Regions from separate parts of the Homo sapiens genome. Here region 2 is linked to region 1. The links come from fine-mapping of genetic effects on gene expression. A gene starts in region 1. The other region holds a variant in brackets. All regions are shown on one strand. Distances are from middle to middle.

Evidence for each region.
Region 2: its variant is fine-mapped to the expression of ALDH8A1 in whole blood (TOPMed, PIP above 0.99).

The regions. Positions count from the first base shown.
Region 1 is chr6:134,948,523-134,951,451 of GRCh38, reverse strand. It overlaps ALDH8A1 (aldehyde dehydrogenase 8 family member A1), which reads left to right and starts at 1,351. Exons shown (of 7, transcript NM_022568.4): 1 at 1,351-1,536. The coding sequence starts at 1,399.
Region 2 is chr6:134,917,416-134,920,344 of GRCh38, reverse strand. It overlaps ALDH8A1 (aldehyde dehydrogenase 8 family member A1), which reads left to right. Exons shown (of 7, transcript NM_022568.4): 7 at 1,478-2,929. The coding sequence ends at 1,930. Among named protein-coding and RNA genes, the nearest start is that of ALDH8A1, 31 kb to the left of the region's middle. The variant C/G (reference allele first, on the strand shown) is at 1,725.

The DNA of each region.
Region 1 (2,929 bases):
TTATAAAAGTAATATAGGCTTGCCATAAAATATCCAAGCAGTTTAAAACGGCTTCCTGTCAACCATGTAAATAGCCAAAGAAACTATGCTGTATATATTATTCACTAGTTTTATTTTTTCACTTAACAATGCATCCTTCTAATGTCTAAGTAGTATTCCCTGTTAAGAATATAACAATTATACTCTAATATTCTCCAATTGATGGACTTTAGGTTGTTTTGATTTTTAAATTATGATAAAAAAGGATGTCCTGTGACTTATGTACTTGTTCATGAGCACGTAATTCTGTAGGAGAGATTCCTAGAAGAGAAATTGACCAGACCCTGACAAATTGCCCCAAGCAGTGTTCTGTGAACCCTCCCGCCTATGGACTAGGGATGATTCTCCACATCCTCACAGAGTAGATGTTCTCAATCTTTAAAAATGCTCTCCAGTATGATTGGCAAATCAGGCCACCTCTGTATTTCACATTCCTTGCTTAACAACAAGGCTGAACATTGTTAATATATTCATTAGCCAATTGTGTTCCTTTTCCTATGGATTGCTTTTTTGTATCTTTGCTTATCTTTTCTGTTGGGGTGCTCATTTCTCTTACCAATTTGTAGAAATTCTCAGCTACATCAGGGATCTGAAGCCCTTGCTATATGTGTCACACATGTTTTTGGCTTGTCTTTATCTCCATGGCACATCTAGGAAGATGTGAGCAGCCACTGTGGCCCCGGTTTTGGGATGGAGAGACAGCTCTTCCAAGAGAGGGCAGCCAAGGTAAAGAAACACAGATGAGCCACGGAAAGAGGGCATCTGTCTTCAGTTACCTCTGCAGGGTAAGCAGTGATGCATTGAGGAAAAAGTATATGATTTGGAGATTAAAGGGCTACAGTTCATCCCCTGCTAACTATGTGACCTTGGAAAAATGGTCTAACCTCTCCAAGGCTCAGTTTCTTCTATAAAAGAGAGGAAGTAATGGTTACTTCATATAGGATTGTTGTGTGGAATAAACGAGTAAATTCATGTAAAGGACTTGCTTTGGGGCCTGGCATCCAATCAGTGTTTGAGCAATGAACAGTTTACGGTGTGAACCCAATAAAATCACATGCACAGATGCCTTCTGATGATTTAAAGGGCTATGAACACATAAGTAAGTAGCTGTTACTTTTACACACAATTATCCATGTCAGGTAATGTACTAGAAGTCTGTGAAACATTCAGCCACTCTCTTAGTTCTGAGTTTGGAGACTGGAATGCTCTCTGAGAGCGTCAGGTGCCCTCCCACATTCACTGATTGGTAAAGGGGAAGATGGGGGCTGGGAAGGGGGAGGCTCACTCAGGAGTCCAGACAGTGGTGGGGACAACCTGAGTGCTCAGTCGTAAAGAGGAAAGGCAGAATTTTTCCTTGCTATGGCTGGAACAAACGCACTTTTGATGCTGGAAAACTTCATAGATGGAAAATTTTTACCTTGTAGCTCATATATAGATTCTTACGACCCATCAACAGGGGAAGTGTATTGCAGAGTGCCAAATAGTGGAAAAGACGAGGTGAGTATATGCACTTAAAGAAGACTGAAATGTGTTTAATATGTTGGCCAATTATGGGTAACAGTTTTCTAAAAGCAGAGGGAGTTGGGGGAAGATGTAGGATTGTTAAACATGATAGAAGGAAGATTCTAGTTCTCAGAAGATGTACCTTGTAACTGGACTGTATGATACCTAGAACAAATCTCTTCCTATATGCAGAAAGTAAGTCATTTTTCTAGCCAACCTAACACAGCCCTGTGTGCAGTTTTTTTTTGCAATTCTCAAACATTTCCTAATCAGTGTCTAGTACAAAGTATTATTTGTAAGAGCTATCACTTTGTTAAATATTCCCTTTTCTCCACCACGCACTGCTTAAATTTACCACTATATCCATGGAATTAAAAAAAAAGTATAGCTTTACTAAAATAAACAAACAAGCAAAAAACTGTGGGCTTTGTTTTAGATTGTCTTCTCATAATTTGTCATGTCTTCAAAATACCTAGTAAAATAAAATCAATCATTTGAATGATGAAACTCAAAATCAAATTCCCATATATTTTTGGAGTTAGATTTAACAGCGTCTTTTTTCTTATCCAAAGTGTTTAATGGCATATGCATTACATTTTTTTGGTGATGTAGAATTAATTTTACTTGGAGAATTTTGTAAAATATTTGAGATATATTTGATTAGCTATCAATTATTGCACTGAGAATGTAAATATATCTGAAGTGGTAAATGTAGCTGATGTATATATAGTCATCTAATGCCTTATGAATTATAATTTATTCTTTTTAAGGCACAAATAACTAGATTATTTAAAATATAGTCTTCCTATAAAAATATATATTCCATGCAAAGTTTTTTTTTAAGAACATTGCTATTTTTTTTCTTTTTTGTTAATACTTCAAATCTGTCTTGCATTTAAAGTAAACCTTCAGACTTAGGGATTAATGTTTGCAAATGTTGGTTAATGCATTGGTTAAATTATAAACTGCAATTTTGTTTGCTTCAAATGACTTAACACAGCTCTGGGAAATCCAGCTTTGTGTTTTCCACTCTTCCTTGTTTGCCAAAGTGAAGTTAAAAATGACAAACATGCCAAATTCAGCTGAAATATTTCCTGCAGCTAATGGCTCATAACTTTTTAGAAAATAGAATGAGCTATGGATGCGCTAGCTAGTAGAGTAATAGATATGTTCAGTTTCTCAGCAATCCAACTTCCAAATATCCTATCTGATCCCATAAGTCATAGTTTTTTCCGGCTTGAAAAATATGGTTACCATACAAACTGCATGTCCAATTTCCAAAACATCACTCAGGAAAATGTTGCTGGTGCTGCTAACAGTGGCTCCCGTTTATTCAACTTTTGCTTTGTGCTTTGCAGTCATTAAGCCCTTTTTTAACAAAAAATTA
Region 2 (2,929 bases), 31 kb after region 1:
ACAAACTTATTTTAGTTTCTACCCACAAACTAGAATAGCGTTATGTTCTGGGAAAGCTTTGAGATCACTATGGATGTTGGGAGTGGAAGTTAATGGAAGGGAATATAAATCTGTACCAAATGCTCTATTTTTTAAAAAAGTCTTGAGCTGGGTGTGGTGGCTCATTCCTGTAATCCCAGCACTTTGGGCGGATCCCTTGAGACCAGGAGTTGAAGACCAGCCTGGGCAACATAGCAAGACCCCATCTCTATAGGAAATTAAACAAAATGTATTAGACGTGATGACTTGTGTTTATAGGCTCAGCTACTCGAGAGGCTGAGGTGGGAGGATCTCTTCAGTCCAGGAGTCTTCAAGGCTGCAGCAAGCCATGGTGGTGCCACTGCATTGCAGCCCAGGTGACAGAGTGAGACATTGTCTGTAAAAAAAGTCTTTAACTTCATGGCTTATTAATTCTACAAACTTGGAGCAAATTTAATAATAGAATAATATTACCTCTATTTTACATGGAGAATATACATATAGTTCTACACTGAATATAGTTCTACAATGGAGTTCTAATGTAATCCTGGGGCAGAATGCTCGATAGATAAGTAAAAATCCAAAATATTATTGCAAAATTTACCCTGTCTTTGGTTTACTTCTTTACTGCTGTTCTACATTTTTAATTTTTAGGACTACTTTTATACTTCTCTTTTGCTTATAATACCTCTTGGGGTAGAAAAACATATAATTGTGACTTCAACAATGTTTATATATATATAATTATTATGAGCTATTTCTACAACCATTGTTAATATACATCTGTCATTATCTCTGAGTCACTGAGTTAACTAGCTACATAATTTATTTCCCATTATAGTTAGCTAAAATATATTACCTAGATATATTTTCAGAGTATATTCAGTAATGAGACTAGAAATTAGAAATGATTTGTTCTGGAAGCTCATCTATTAAAGGGCATTCTGGCCTTTAACTAAATCTTACACATCTTTCTCTTCCCATTTTCTGCAATGGACATAGCTCCCAAAAAGGGAGAAAATATTCTTTCATGTATTTAACTACAGAATATACCTGAGTGTGAATTCTAACTTTACTGTTTATTAGCTCTATGAACCATTCATATTTTTTACACTCAATTATACTATCAGCAAATAGAAGATAATAATAGATTAACAATAGCTAATAATGTTTTGAGACAATCAAGTGAGAGTGTATGAAAAGCACTTATCTGAGTTCCTGGCACTTAGACATTAAATAATTACTTCCCTCCCTTATGTATGAAAGGTGACTGCCCAAATGATGCTTGGAGCGCCTCTGCCCTCTGGCTTAGCAGCTGAGTGATAAGATAATCGACCATAGATTTCTTAGGAATGACCTTATCCCTCCTTCCGAGATGATTAGAAAACATTGAATTTTCTGCTGATTTGTGTGAAGCCACATGGTAAGACATTGCTAATTATGATTTTTACCCACGCAGGTCAGAAGTTACGTCAAGAGAGCTCTTGCTGAAGGTGCCCAAATTTGGTGCGGTGAGGGAGTGGATAAGTTGAGCCTCCCTGCCAGGAACCAGGCAGGCTACTTTATGCTTCCCACGGTGATAACAGACATTAAGGATGAATCCTGCTGCATGACGGAAGAGATATTTGGTCCAGTGACGTGTGTCGTCCCCTTTGATAGTGAAGAGGAGGTGATTGAAAGAGCCAACAACGTTAAGTATGGGCTGG[C/G]GGCTACCGTGTGGTCCAGCAATGTGGGGCGCGTCCACCGGGTGGCTAAGAAGCTGCAGTCTGGCTTGGTCTGGACCAACTGCTGGCTCATCAGGGAGCTGAACCTTCCTTTCGGGGGGATGAAGAGTTCTGGAATAGGTAGAGAGGGAGCCAAGGACTCTTACGACTTCTTCACTGAGATCAAAACCATCACCGTTAAACACTGATCTTTGCTAATGGTGGAGCCACTATGGCCAATGCCTGGCTGCAGGCATCAGTTGTTCAATGTGGTAGATGAAAATCATGGCATGAATTCCAGCTATGCCTTGACTTGGCAGAAGGTTATCTCTAGCTTATCCTCAGTTCTTAGTAACTTTACCCACTAGTGAAGAGATACTGTCTATTTTCAATGTGGACTCGGAAAAAAAGACTTATAAGTAGGAAGATAGAACAATGATGCCAGTTGTCAGGCTCCTCCCAGGTTATGTTTTCATAGTGTTTCTTTCATCATCTTCATTGAACTCTTGGGAATCTCCAGATAATCAGATTATTTCATTTGGTAAATTTTAAAAAATATGCAATCAGGCACAGTGCCTCATGCCTATAATCCCAGCACTTTGGGAGGCCAAGGTGGGTGGATCACTTGAGTTCAGGAGTTCGAGATCAGCCTAGGCAACATGGTGAAATCCTGTCTTTACCAAAAGTTTAAAAATTAGCTTGGTGTGGTGCCCTCTGCCTATAGCCCCAGCTACTTGGGAGGCTGAGGTGGGAGGATCGCTTGAGCCCAGGCGGTTGAGGCTGCAGTGAGCCATGATCATTCCACTGCATTTCAGCCTGGGGGATACAGTGAGACCTTGTCTTTAAAAAAAAAATGCTGCAAAACCAAAAATAAATAGCCATAATTTGCCATCTTTGGAGAGATTATGGAGATAATCTCCTTGTCTATTAGCCACTAGCATGGCTAATTGATCATTGATTGGACCTCATTACATAAGGGGGCTGTGGACGTCTTTGGAATTTGTTAGGGGAAGGCTATGTGGTAAGCTCTACTAAATGTATCTGTACAAGGATGAAGAAAAACAAAATAACTACTACTTTTGGAGGAAACTTGGAACAAGAAGAGTACATAGTTTGATCCATTCCTACGGTCGAGTCTAATCAATTCCATTTCTTAGTGTATGCATCTAATGAGGCTTACAACTTGCTAACCCCAAAAGAAGCAATAA